Homo sapiens: one gene and its partner. The protein of the gene in region 1 purifies or fractionates together with the protein of each later gene. This does not show direct contact. Each region holds a gene or a part of one and is shown on either strand. Other genes may lie near its edges.

Region 1 (7,026 bases):
CTGCAACCTTGACCTCCAGGGTTCAAGTGATCCTCTCATCTCAGCCTTCCGAGTAGCTGGGACCGTAGGAGCACACCACCATGCCTGGCTAATTTTTATGTTTTTTGTAGAGATGAGGTCTCACTATGTTGTCCAGGCTGGCTTTGAACCCCCAGGCTCAAGCGATCCTCTTAACTTAGCCTCCTAGATAGCTGGGACTATAGGTGTGAGTGATTGTGTCTGGCTCGGTCTGTCTCTCTCTTTTTTTCTTTTCTTTTTTGAGACAGGGTCTCATTCTGCTGTTGCCCAGGCTGGAGTGCAATGGCACAATCTCGACTCACTACAAGCTCTGCCTCCTGGGTTCAAGCAATTCTCCTGCCTCAGACTCCTGAGTAGCTGGGATTACAGGTGCCCAGCACCACACCTGGCTAAGTTTTATATTTTTAGTAGAGATGGGGTTTCACCATGTTGGCCAGGCTGGTCTCAAACTCCTGACCTCAGGTGATCCACCCACCTCAGCCTCCCAAAGTGCTGGGATTACAGGCGTGAGCCACTGCACCCAGCCTCTCTCTCTCTCTTTGTTAAAAAAATCCCTGTCTCAGGACTGGGCATATTAACTCATGCCTGTAGTCCCAGCACTTTGGCAGGCCAAGGCAGGAGGATTGCTTGAGGCCAGGAGTTCAAGACCAATCTGGGCAACAAAGTGAAACACCAACTCTACAAAAAAGTTTTAAAATATTAGCCAGGCATGATGGTGTGTGCCTGCGGTCCCAGCTACTTGAGAGGCTGAAGTGGGAGGATTGCTTGAGCCCAGGAGGTGTAGACTGCAGTGACCTGTGATCACACCACTGCACTCCAGCCTGGACAACAGAGCGAGTTCCTGTCTCAAAAAAAAAAAAAAAAAAAAAAAAGCGGGGAATGGTGGCTCCCATCTGTAATCCCAGCACTTTGGGAGGCTGAGGTGGGTGGATCACGAGGTCAGGAGTTTGAGACCAGTCTGGCCAATATGATGAAACCCTGTCTCTACTAAAAATACAAAAATTAGCTGGGCATGGTGGTGGGTGCCTGTAGTCCCAGCTGCTCGGGAGGCTGAGGCAGGAGAATCACTTGAACTCTGGAGGCGGAGGTTGCAGTGAGCCGAGATCATGCCACTGCACTCCAGCCTGGGTGACAGAACGAGACTTTGTCTCAAAAAAAAAAAAAAAAATCCCTGACTTACTTCCTCAGTCTCCTCTTGGAGCTTCCTGGGATTGCCTCCCAGAAAAACCATTTGTCTCTGAATCCTTGCCTCAGGCTCTGCTTCTGGGGGAGGGGCAAAATGAAGACAGCAGGGACTATTGCCTTATTGTTCATGGCTGTGTCTCCAAGCACCCTAAACAGTACCTGGCACACAACAGGTGCTCAATAAATAATTGCTGAATGAATGAACTAAGAGGCACGGTCCTTCCCAAAGCTTTAGAGGCAGAAGGAAGTATCACTATGGAGCCTGGGTAGGTTGGCACAGAGAGGTGGGAACGCGGTGGGGAGGGCTGGGGTGTCCCCTAGTTGCTAAGGGATCCTCATGGTCCTTCCACCCCACCCCCACCCCAGGATCCCCCATCCCTGACTGCTTGGCCGCCCACCTGCTCGGCCTTCAGGGTAAGTTCGATAAAGATTTGCTGCAGCTTCTCATTGACGAAGTTGATGCAAAACTGCTCGAAGCCATTTTTCTGCAGAAGGAGGAAAAGGGTCCTTCCCTCAATGTCCTGGTGCTGGAAGTTCTTGTGGCCACCCTGGGCTGCCCCAGGGAGGACAGGATGTGGGCTGGAGGCAGGGGGCCGTACCTGGAAGATCTCGAAGCCGTAAATGTCCAGCACACCGATGCTGTACTCTTCCTGGGGTTTCTGCATAGCACGGTTGATGGCCTGCGGTGTGGGTGGGGACAGGAAGTCAGTGGGCATCGGTCAGATCTGAAGCCCCTGCCCACCACTCCTTAGACACACGCCTAGCCAACTTCATGGGTGATGTCCCCTCATGCCAGTTTCCCTCCAGCCCTCTTTAGCTCTGCCCTTCCTGGCTCTGTGTACAGTCTCCCCACCCCATAATCAGTCACTCAGAGGAGAAACCCAAGTGTCAGTGTATCAGGGTCCCTGACTCCAGAGCTGACTCTGCCCCTGAACCTCTCTGCACCTCTATTTTCTTTTTTTTTTTTTCTTTTTTTTTTTTGAGACGGAGTCTCACTCTGTCGCCCAGGCTGGAGTGCAGTGGCATGATCTCGGCTCACTGCAAGCTCCGCCTCCAGGGTTCACACCATTCTCCTGCCTCAGCCTCCCAAGTAGCTGGAACTACAAGGGCCTGCCACCACGCCCGGCTAATTTTTTGTATTTTTAGTAGAGACGGGGTTTCACTGTGGTCTCGATCTCCTGACCTCGTGATCCGCCCGCCTCGGCCTCCCAAAGTGCCGGGATTACAGGTGTGAGCCACTGCGCCCGGCCTTGCACCTCTATTTTCTTATCTTTAAAAGGGGTTGATAATAGCAACTACCTTATGGGGCTTTTTCTTTTCTATTTTTTTTGAGATGGAGTCTCATTCTGTTGCCCAGGCTGGAATGCCAGTGGCGCAATCTCGGCTCACTGAAACCTCTGCCTCCAGGATTCAAGAGATTCTTCTGCCTCAGCCTCCCAAGTAGCTGGGATTACAGGCATGCGCCACCACGCCCGGCTAATTCTTGTATTTTTAGTAGAGACGGGGTTTTGCCATGCTGGCCAGGGCTGATCTTGAACTCCTGACCTTGGGTGATCTGCCCGCTTTGACCTCCCAAAGTGCTGGGATTACAGGCATGAGCCACTGCACCTGGCCATACATTTTATACTTTATTTATTTTTATTTTTTATTTTGAGACAGGGTCTCAGTCTGTTGTCCAGGCTGGAGTGTAGTGGCTTGATCATGGCTCACTACAGCCTCAACCTCCTGGGGTCAGGGATTCTTCCACCTCAGCCTCCTGAGTAGCCGGGATTACAGGCACCAGCCACCATGCCCGGCTAATTTTTGTATTTTTGTAGAGACAGGGTTTTGCCATGTTGCCCAGGCTGACTCCATACATTAAAAAAGTTTTTATTTTATTTATTTATTTATTTTGAGACAGAGTCTCTCTCTGTTGCCCAGGCTGGAATACAATAGCACGATCTCAGCTCACTGCAACCTCCACCTCCCAGGTTCAAGTGATTCTCCTCCCTCAGCCTCCCAAGTAGCTGGGATTAAAGGCATGTGCCACCACTCCCGGGTAATTTTTAGTAGAGAGGGGGTTTCACCATGTTGGCCAGGCTGGTCTCAAACTCCAGACCTCAAGTGATCCATCCACCTCAGCCTCCCAAAGTGCTGGGATTACAGGCATGAGCCACTGCATCTGGCCAAAAGTTTTTTTTAGAGACAGGGTCTTGCTCTGTCACCCAGGCTGGAGTACAATAGCGCAATCATAGCTCACTGCAGCCCCAACCTCCTGGGTTCAAATGATCCCCCAACCTCAGCCCTCTGAGTAGCCAGAACTACACATGCACACCACTACACCCAACTAATTTGAAATTTCTGTAGAGATGGGGGTCTTGCTATGTTGCCCAGGCTGGTCTTGAACTTCTGGCCTCAAAGAATGCTCCCAACTCAGCCACCCAAAGCATTGGGATTGCAGCCGTGAGCCACTGCACTCAGCTTCCATAAATGTTTGTGACCCCAGAGCATCCACTCTGCCTTCCAGCCCCAGCCCCACTCGCCTCCACGAGGAAGTCGAAGAGGCGGGCATAGAGCCCCTTGGCCAGGGCATCACGGGTGTAGGCTGCCTGCTCCACGTTGAGGGTCACATTGATGGACTCGCTGCGCCCGCCCCAGCGGCTGTCCATCTTGCGGCTGGTCAGCTTCTCCTGCAGTCGCCCGCTGTCAATGCCCAGCAGGTAGGCGGGAAAGGCCAGGACTACCAGGGCAAAGGTCAGGGCAAAAATGGGACAGTTGGTTGGGCTCTTGTGCCTCCTGCATGGGCCTCCTATTATCCCCATCTTGCCCAGTGACACCCACATTTTTTTCCTCGTGGGCTTTCAGCTTCCTGGGGGCTGAGCTAGGAGGACGCAGTTCACCCACCCACAGGCCTCCATCCAGCCCTCCCTGATACCCACACTCACGGTCCACACTCTCCACTCGGGCGTAATTCCCGTCTTCACAGAAACTGATGTTCCCCAGGTGCAAGATCCCCGCCACGAGCTGCAGGACCAGCTGCTGGATGCTGGGCGGGATCCCAATAACCTGCATAGCACTCTGTGGTACAACGGGGGCAGAAACTGTGCCGTGAATCCTGGCCTCCAACCTGCCTCCAGGGGCAGGCTTGAGGGACCACAGCACGGACTCAGGGAGTGAGCACCCTTGGGTCCCTGTCCTACCCCTTTCAGTCACTTGCCGCGTGACCTTGGGTAAGTGCCTGCACCTCTCTGGGCTTTGTTTTTTATTATATTTTTTATTTTTGAGACAGAGTCTCCCTCTGTTGCCCAGGCTGGAGTGCAGTGGTATGATCTTGGCTCACTGCAACCTCCTCATCCCAGGTTCAAGCGATTTTCCTGCCTCCGCCTCCCGAGTAGCTGGGATTACAGGCGTGAGCGTCGTGTCCGGACTGGGCTTTGGTTTCCTATTTTTTTTTTTTTAGAGTCTCACTCTTTCACCCAGGCGGGAGTGCAGCGGCGCTATCTTGGCTCACTGCAACCTCCACCTCCCGGGTTTAAGCGATTCTCCTGCCTCAGCCTCCCTAGTAGCTGGGACTACAGGCGCATGGCATCATACCCGGCTAATCTTTGTATTCTTAATAAAGATGGGGTTTCACTATGTTGGCCAGGCTGGTCTTGAACTCCTGACCTCAGGTGATCTACCTGCCTCGGCCTCCCAAAGTGCTGGGATTACAGGTGTGAGCCACCGTGCCTGGCCTTTTTTTTTTTTTTTTTTGAGATGTAGTCTCACTCTGTTGCCCAGGCTGGAGTGCAGTAGTGTGATCTCGGCTCACTGCAACTTCCACCTCCCGTTTTCAAGCAATTTTCCTGCCTCTGCCTCCCCAGTAGCTGGGATTACAGTCACACGCCACCACATCTGGCTAATTTTTGTATTTTAAGTAGAGACGGGGTTTAACCACGTTGGCCAGGCCGGTCTTAAACTCCTGACCTTAAGTGATCTACCTGCCTCGGCCTCCCAAAGTGCTGGGATTACAGGCTTGAGCCACATGCCTGGCCTGGGCTTCGGTTTCCTAATTTGTAACTCAGGAGGGTTTCTGGGGCTGAGGTCTGCCTGGCCGGGGACTGGAGTAGAGGCCGGTGCTCACCAGAGTCTCACCAAAGTCGCTTCTGTCGTCCGTGCCGTCCACCTGGTAGGTGTCCGATTGGTTGAGGTAGTAATAGTAGTCCGGTGTCATGAGGCCCAGGTTCTGCCTTTGCTCCTGGGAGGCCCCTTCCAGCAGCTGGAGGGTGTGCCATGTTCATGCATCTGGTGCTTGCCTGGCTCAGCCCCTGTGATCCCTCATCTGCCCTGCCATGCCCCCCTAGGTGTTTACCTTCCCATTGTCCACCCCGCTGGGCTCCAGGTGGTGCTCCCTCTCCCCCGGCCCCTTCCCTGCACCTGGTAGTAGATGTGGAAGTTCCTCTCATTTTCATTTTGCATGACCACGCGGGACTTCTCCAGCAAGAAGTTGGAGATCTTGCCCCCATCTGGCTCCCCACCTCGGCTGAACTGGATCTCAAAGTACTTGCCCTGAATCCGAGAGAACCATGTCAGCACCCCAGTGTCCTGGGGTGCAGGTGGGGGAAGGGTTGGGGATGGGTCTTATGAGCCTTGCCTCTCTTCCCTTCTTCCTTTTTTTTTTGAGACAGAATCTGACTCTGTTGCTCAGGCTGGGATTCAGTGGCGCAATGTCGGCTCACTGCAACGTCCACCTCCTGGGTTCAAGTGATTCTCCTGCCTTAGCCTCCTGAGTAGCTGGGACTACAGGCACCCGCCACCATGCCCAGCTAATTTTTGTATTTTTGGCAGAGCTAATTTTTGTATTTTTCATCATGTTGGCCAGGCTGGTCTTGAACTCCAGACCTCAAGTGATCCGCCTGTCTCAGCCTCCCAAAGTGCTGGGATTTCAGATGTGAGCCCCCACACCCAGCCCAAGGGTATGGAATTTATTAAACCATGTCCATGTGCAGGTGTAATACTGAAGTCTATGAGATGGATATTAACATCGTCACCATTTTATGGATGAGCAAACAGAGGAAACTCAGGAAGTTGCATAGATTTTTTTCCCCCCCAGGCTACACAGCTCACAGTGATAGAATCAAACCCTGAATCCATATCTGTTTACCTATCCTGACTTTCACTGGGCCCAGCGCAGCACCCACACAAAGAACGAGTCCCAGAACTATTGTCGAAAGAAGGAATGGATGAGGGAATAAATTGGACCTGAAATGTGAATGGGAACAATGTAGCATGGCTGCAGCCGGGGGAGCATTTAAGAATGTTACACAGGGGTGTCATGGCCTCCACAGTTCTGCCAATGGGGGACTCTCTTTTGAAAGGGACCATGAGCAGGAAGTGAGTCTCCCCTTCAGGAGTAGGTATTTCCTGCTGGGTTTTCAATGGACTCTTGTCTTGGCAATACGGGTGTGTGTATGTGTGGGTGTGTGTGTAGAAAGGTCAGCACGGAGGGAGCAGCTGCTCCAAGCAGGTCTGCAGAGACTTACAAAGCGGCTGGAATTGTTGTTGCGCACAGTCTTGGCGTTGCCGAAGGCCTCGAGCAGCGGGTTGGACTGCAGGATGATATCTTTGACGTGCTGGGGCAGAGGCAGGTGGAGTGGGAAGAAGTCAGACTGAGGCAGGAGTGCAGATGGGTGGGGCTGCACTACCATGCAGGTGAGGGCGACCCAGCTTATCCTTCTGTTTTCCTCGTCTCACCTGGACCTTCTCGCCTCCGCCAGACACCTTGGAGATGTAGCCCATGATATATTTGGCTGCCACTGTCTTCCCAGCTCCACTCTCTCCACTGGGGATGAATGGAGGAATAAA
Region 2 (7,026 bases), on another chromosome or scaffold:
CTATTCTTTTTGAATCCTTTAGAATACCGGCCAAAACCCTTGTTCCTGGAAGCTCTGTAGAACAGTGGGTAGAATGTGGTCAGTCAGCCTCACTGCATGGGTCCCTCTCGCTTGAAAGACTGGACACTTCCTTTCCTCTCTCAGGCTTAGAAAGGTTACTGGAAAACAGCAGTAATATAAAAACAAAACCACTGTCTAATCTTACAGAAGGAAAGATCAGAATTTGCTCCTCTAGCTTAGCTTTTCACAAGGTCTTCTTTTATGATTTGCATTTTAAGTTTAATGCAAACTATTAGATTCAAGAGAAAGCCAACATTTGCCAAAGTTAGTGATTCCATTGATACTTTTTCTGTTGTAATCAATAATAATGACAAATTGAATTTTTAGATGTATTTCTTCCTGGACAAAAATTTATCACCCACCGCTTTTCTACCTCTCTCTATAACAAAAGAAATAAACTCAACAACAATAAGAAATGAAGATCTCAACAAATTAAATAGCAGTGCCAAAGGAAAATTTGTAACTGTCTACTAAAAAGAAGCCTATCTTATTTCAGCTAATAAACATGTTAGTTATATGAATGAAAAGTATTATAGTGAATGTAAAAATATTCCTCTAAGTGTCATATGAAAATGCAAAAGCCAAAACTATTAGAAAAAGTATATTTTCCTAAATAATTCCACTTTTTAGATTCTTAAGTTTTTCTATTTTATAAATTTTACAAAATGTGTTAACATTTTCTTGAAGGTTCTTCTGAAGAATCTCTCTTTTATAAAATTATTGTACCTAGATTTGTCAGGCTTCTAATTTTCGTTCTTAAAAGGTATCTTTTCTCTTTGAATTTCAGATATAGTGGAAATGCTATTTACTCAACCAAATATTGAACTGAACCAGCAGGTAAGACTGCTTATTTGAAAATTATTTAACACATACCTGCTTGTTGTCTTTAGTACAGAGCAACTCATGGGCATGTGAAGTATTGTAGTCAAAATCCCACAAGCACATAATTTAAAAATTATAATTGTACTAAAATTCAAATTATCCACAGCCCCAAGTGCCAAACCCACTCCTCCTCATATGTCACTTTCAGCTTTTAGCTCTTTCTTCCTGTACTTACCTTTGTGTTACTAAGGAATAGGCTGACGGAGCTATCTCGCCATGCATTGTCTTCATGTGTACTTTGGCCTCCTGTTGGGTATGTGAAGGGTTAAGCTTGTCAGCTGCCCCAGCTCTCATCTTTCAGCACCCCAGCACCAAGCCTGTTCTCCTCTGCTCCTCAGTGTACTTCATCACAGTTTTTGGTTATATTACTATATAATATTTACTTTATTATGGGTGTCTAAATAGTGTTCACTGCTTATATAACCTTTTTTTGTTTCTGTACTTACTTTTTAAAACTCATTTTTTGTTATCTCACTGTGACTTCTCTACTGTTTTATACAGTCTTGATATATAATACTTTTCCAAAATGTGTAAGATAATCAACAGCTTTCTTTTTTCTCCCTGGATTCATTACTTCCTGAAGCTCTCCATCATTCTCCAGTCTGAGCAGCTTGGTCCCTGTGGCCCTTTGCTGTCCTCCAGGGAACCCCTTCCGTTCTCTGCCATGTTGCATCTTCATTTTTCTGGATCCCTTGTCTTTCTTTTGTCAGAGAACATCTTCAAGTAGATTCCTGAGAAAGAGAAGCTTGGGATTGATTATATGGCTGATCAGAATTCTAGGTCAAAAACAGTTTCCCTTAGAATTTTGAAGGCATGGCTCTGTGGCATTCTTGTTTCCAGGGTTGCTTTTGAGAGATTTGGTGCCATTTTGATTCCCATTCTTTTATGTATGATCTGCTTTTTCTCTTGCTAAGAGTATTTACTTTATTGTTGGTGTTTTCAAATTTTATGATGATGTGCTAGCATTCATCTCTTCCCAATGATTATGATGAACTCTTTCAGCCTGGAAAATTATCTTGTATTTCTTTTAGAATTTTTATCTGACCCTTCTTTGTTCTTTTGGTTCTGGAATGCCCATTAGTAGGATGTTGGACTTCTTGGATTGAACCTTCAGTTTTCTTAATTTTTCCCAGAGATATTCTCACCTTTGTTTTATTTTGGTTATCTTTTTAATTCCCCAGAGTTCTGTATTAGTTTTCTATTGCTGCCTAGCAAACGACCACAGGCTTAGCAGCTTATACTTTCTGTACGTCAGAATTCTGGGCATGGCATAGCTGCGTTCTCTGCTCAGGGTCTCCCAGGTGGAAATCAAGGGATTGGCTGGAGCTGGATTCTCATCTGGAGCTTGGGGTCTTCTTCCAAGTGCATTTAGGTTGTAGGAAGAATTGATTTTCTTCTAACTGTAGTATTACTGAGGCCCTCAGCTTTTAGAGGCCACCCCTCTCTGTAGACAGCTCACAGTATGGCTGTTTGCTTTCTTCCTCAAGGCCAGAAGGAGATTGTCTCTCTGCTGTTTCATTGTTTTTATTTTTTAGGGGCCCACCTGGTTAGGTCAGGCCCACCTGGGATAATGTCCCTTTTGAAGAATTCAACATCCGCTGACTAGAAACCTAATTATGGGAGTGATAGCCTGTTACATTCACTGCTTTCACTTGCAGTCAAGAGGAGGGGGCCTGTACCAGGGCCAGGAACCTTGGGGGCCATTCTTAGAATTCTGTTATAAGCCCTTATTTTACTCTGATTGTTACTTTTACGTAGTATCTTTTTCTTGTTTCATGACACAATATGATCTTATATCTTGCTGATATAATATTTATAACTTTTCAAACTATGTTTTTTGGCTCTTCACTGTACTGTGTTTTTTCCCTTTGAGATCCATTTATTTTGTTTGTTTTGGTCTTTACTAAAATATTGTAGGCTTTCCACGAACACTTGGTGTCATTATCCATTCATTATTATTTTTTTAATTTGAGATGGAGTCTCGCTCTGTTGTCCAGGCTGGGGCGTAGTGGCGCAATCTCAGCTCACTGCAACCTCTGCCTCCCGGGTTCAAGCTATTCTCCTGCCTCAGCCTCCCAAGTAGCTGGGACTACAGGCCCATGCCACTGGCCTGGCTTATTTTTGTGTTTTTAGTAGAGACGGGGTTTCACCACGTTAGCCAGGCTGGTCTCGAACTCCTGACTTCAGGTGATCCGCTCTCCTCGGTCTCCCAAAGTGCTGAGATTACAGGTGTGAGCCACCATGCCTGGCCCTTATCCATTCATTTTTAGGTGTGATTGGAAGCTGTGTGTGCTTGGTGAGGCCTGCTGGCGGTTGGGCTTCTCCATAGGGTGATGTGGTGAGGTCCTGGCTATTTTGCTAGGTGACACCCAAATGCTAATGAAAGTGACACTCCTTCCCTTCCCTGCACATGGGGCTGCACTGCTTCACCAGAGAAGTGCCCTCCAGTCTCCTGCCTGGGGGTATGTGCACACTGGGCAGTGGGGTACGTAAAGGTACCTGAGAGAGGGGTCTTACTGTTCAGTCTGTAGGTTTTTTACCTAACCCTCAGGTTTGAGTTTCTGGCCTTTTGCTACTTCTCTTGTACCTAGTGTTCATGAACTTGGAAACTATCAGGTTAATTTCTCAACAAGTAAATCTGTCATCATTATTGGGTCATCTGGCAGCAAGAGAAGGGGAAGAGGTTCTGAGATTCTACTTTTTATGAGTACTTTAAACCAATATCTCTGTTTTCCCACCCATGCCTCATGCCTGCCCTAGCACCTCCAGGAATCTCCAATTCCTAATTTTTGCCAGGCTTCTGCATGTTCAAATCTGCTTCCTTCCTCCTGGATCTCCCTCCGCAGGCATGTGCTTTTCAGCTCGTGCTCCACCAAGTCAGCTTGTACTCCTCCATCCTATTCCATCTCCCAAAAATGACTCCTCTCCCATCTCTTGAGTCTCCTTTCCTTTTCTCTTTGGAATTTTATGTGGTTCTATAACTTTGTTCCCATTTTAGGTTTAACTTTTAGGTTTAACTGGGTTAAACCTGAATTAACATGTACTTTCAATCCACCCTCTATCTTAAAAATGGTACTTTCTCTTTTTATCACTATAGAACAAGTTGGGAGATACAGCTTTGCATGCTGCTGCCTGGAAGGGTTATGCAGATATCGTCCAGTTGCTTCTGGCAAAAGGTAAAGTTTGTGCTGAGTTTATCTGGTCTTTGCTTGCCCTGAAAAATAGTCTATATCAACTTACGCCATTTGAAATGGTAGGAAGAATAATAGTCTTATTTCAAAATAGGGTTTAACCTTTGCTCTGCCTGTGTATCATGGAATAGTTATGATAAAATAAAATTATTGGGGGTTGGTTTGTGTTAGTTTTTAATATAAACTAAAACCATGGCAAGCTTTAACATTACATATATTACTTTTAGTAAGAACTGTATTGTATGTTTCTGCAGGATTATAGAGCCTTAGAAACAAAGAATGTATGTGTACACGTGTGTTGGGGAGATCCTGTCTGAGAAAGCTGTATAGGTAAAGTTGCTGAGGCCCCTGTTCTCACAGGGAAGTCTTGACAGATAAGCAAGAATGATGCGGCTGCAATGTCCTGCTTTGAGCTGAGCAGGTGCTAGATGTAAAGTGAACGAGAGAGGATATCTTGATCCCCTGTTTTTATAAGTCAGAGGAAACAGTGAATTTATAAACTGACTATCCCTTTATCCTTTTGTCCCACAAATATTAGTTTACTCTTAGAGAAGGCCAGGCAGATCACCTATACCATACTCTAGTCCAGAAGCCTATCATGTAGGATGCTTGAGTCCCCAAGACACTTGTCATGGAATTACCCTCATTAGGGATCCTCAGAGCAATATTGTGGGATATATGATAGGAAATGGTTTAGATTTTAAGTATGCTGGTGATGTAAGCTGCAGGTCTAAAAGGCCAGACATTATGAGGATCACTCTAGTGCCCTGTAAAGGGTATACTGATGACTTTGATGCCTAATATGGCAGCCACTAGCCACGTGCACAACTGAGCCCTTTAAATGGGGCTATCTGAATTGAGATGTGCTGTAAGTGTAAAATGCATACCAGATTTCAAAGACTTAGTGAAACAAAAAGTAAAACATCACAGTAATTTTCATGTTGGTTATGTGTTGAAATGATAATATTTCAGATATGCTGGGTTAAATAAAATATATAATTAAAAATAATTTCACATTTTGCAAATGTGGCTGTTAGAAAATTAAAAATTATATATGTGGATCACATTATATTCCTATTAGTGCTCATCTAAAGGGACCCAGGAAATAGTTGTGTTTCTTCTTTATCATCACTGTCTCTGAATATTTCCTGTTCTGATAGAAATCATGTCTATGAGCTCTAAAGTATAATATAGTATATGATTAGTCACAGAACTGTTAACCCTCAGGAGTTTTTGATCTGTAGCACACTGAGAGAATGAGGTTTTATATAACCCTACTGTGAATAGAATGATCTGCTTAGGAGAAAGATTTTGACACAAGATCATTATATTACTAATTAAACATACTATTTTTTTTCTTGATGCAATATTTCTTTGCCTTTAAATTTGGGGACACTTCTTTCTTTCTTTCTTTCTTTCTTTCTTTTTTTTTTGAAACTGGGTCTCTATTGCCCAGGCTGGAATGCAGTGGCATGATCTCGGCTCATTGCAACCTCCGCCTCCAGGGCTCAAGTGATTCTCCCACCTCAGCCTCCTGAATAGCTGAAATTACAAACGTGCACCACCACACATGGCTAATTTTTGTAGAGATGGAGTTTCGCCATGTTACCCAGTCTGGTCTTAAACTCCTGAACACAAGCGATCCGCCTGCCTCAGCCTCCCAAAGTGCTGGGATTACAGGCGGATGAGCTACTGTGCTGGCCTATTTTTGTTTATTGAAGGGGAAGTGGTTGCAAAAAAAATATGATACTTTCCTACACTGTGGCAGAAAGTATGAACTGACAAAGCCTTCTTTTTTTGTTTTTTTGGTTTTCTTTGAGACTGTCTGGCTCTATTGCCCAGGTTGGAGTGCAGTGGCGCAATCTTGGCTCATTGCAGTCTCCGCCTCCTGGATTCAAGTGATTCTCATGCCTCAGTCTCCCAAGTAGCTGGGATTACAGGCATGCGCCACCACACTTGGCTAATTTTTGTATTTTTAGTAGAGATGGGCCATGTTGGTCAGGCTGGTCTTGAACTCCTGACCTCAAATGATCTGCCCGCCTTGGCCTCCTAAAGTGCCAGGATTACAGGCGTGAGCCACCGTGCTTGGCCTAAAGCCTTCTTGGAAAGCAATCTTAAAATCAGAGATGAAAAAGGAGGTATTACAACTGATACCACAGAAATTCAGAGGATCATTAGAGACTAGTATGAAAAGCAATCTGACAGTAGCTGTCAGAATTTAAAATGGACTTAGCCTGACTTTCCAATACCATTTTTAGTAAACCATTCTTCAGAAATACGTGTGAACAAAGATGTTGTTCAAGGATGTTCACTGGAGTATTTGTGATAATGAAAATTAGGAGTAGCCTAAGTGCCCGTCAATACAGGAGTAATTAAATTTTGGAGCACCACAAAATGGAATACTTAAATGGTTGAGTTACAAATATGTGTATTTGCTAAGAAAACAGTACCATTAGACATTAAAGTTTTAAAAACATGAAATCACAGACCAATACGTGTAGTACGATTTTGTGTCTATATCAATATGTGTATGAATGCACTGATGCAAATAAGGGAGATAAGAACTCACACCCACTTGTTAAGAATGGTTACCTTAGGCGTAGGTAGAAGATGAAGGAATGAAATGGGACTTGTGCTTTTGTTCAGCATACATTTGTATTTTTGAATCCTTAACAATGCAAATGTATTCATGAATTCTGATGTAATTTTGAACACAATAAAGGCAAAGGAAAAGTGGGTAGAAGATGGCTTATGGGAATAATGAATTGCCTCTTGGTTTTACGTGTTGCTATTCTGTTAATTTGCATGAGAGCAGACTTACAGATATAAAATATTAATCCCCTCAAGCACTATCCACTTGGTCTTTTCTAAAGACCCTCTTGAGCAAAAGAGG

The links.
Region 2: the proteins of MYO1F (region 1) and OSTF1 purify together in Homo sapiens (affinity purification with mass spectrometry; 2 studies listed by BioGRID and IntAct, with this or other methods). This does not show direct contact.

Annotation. Positions count from the first base shown.
Region 1 is NC_000019.10:8,546,435-8,553,460, forward strand, and holds part of MYO1F (unconventional myosin-If), read right to left. Parts: intron 7,004-7,026; coding exon 6,916-7,003; intron 6,795-6,915; coding exon 6,705-6,794; intron 5,731-6,704; coding exon 5,599-5,730; intron 5,441-5,598; coding exon 5,306-5,440; intron 4,261-5,305; coding exon 4,128-4,260; coding exon of another isoform or gene 4,122-4,127; intron 3,923-4,121; coding exon 3,726-3,922; intron 1,884-3,725; coding exon 1,803-1,883; intron 1,689-1,802; coding exon 1,602-1,688; intron 892-1,601; exon of another isoform or gene 1-891. UniProt on the Homo sapiens protein: Myosins are actin-based motor molecules with ATPase activity. Unconventional myosins serve in intracellular movements. Their highly divergent tails are presumed to bind to membranous compartments, which would be moved relative to actin filaments.
Region 2 is NC_000009.12:75,133,499-75,140,524, forward strand, and holds part of OSTF1 (osteoclast-stimulating factor 1), read left to right. Parts: intron 1-847; coding exon 848-897; intron 898-4,039; coding exon 4,040-4,118; intron 4,119-7,026.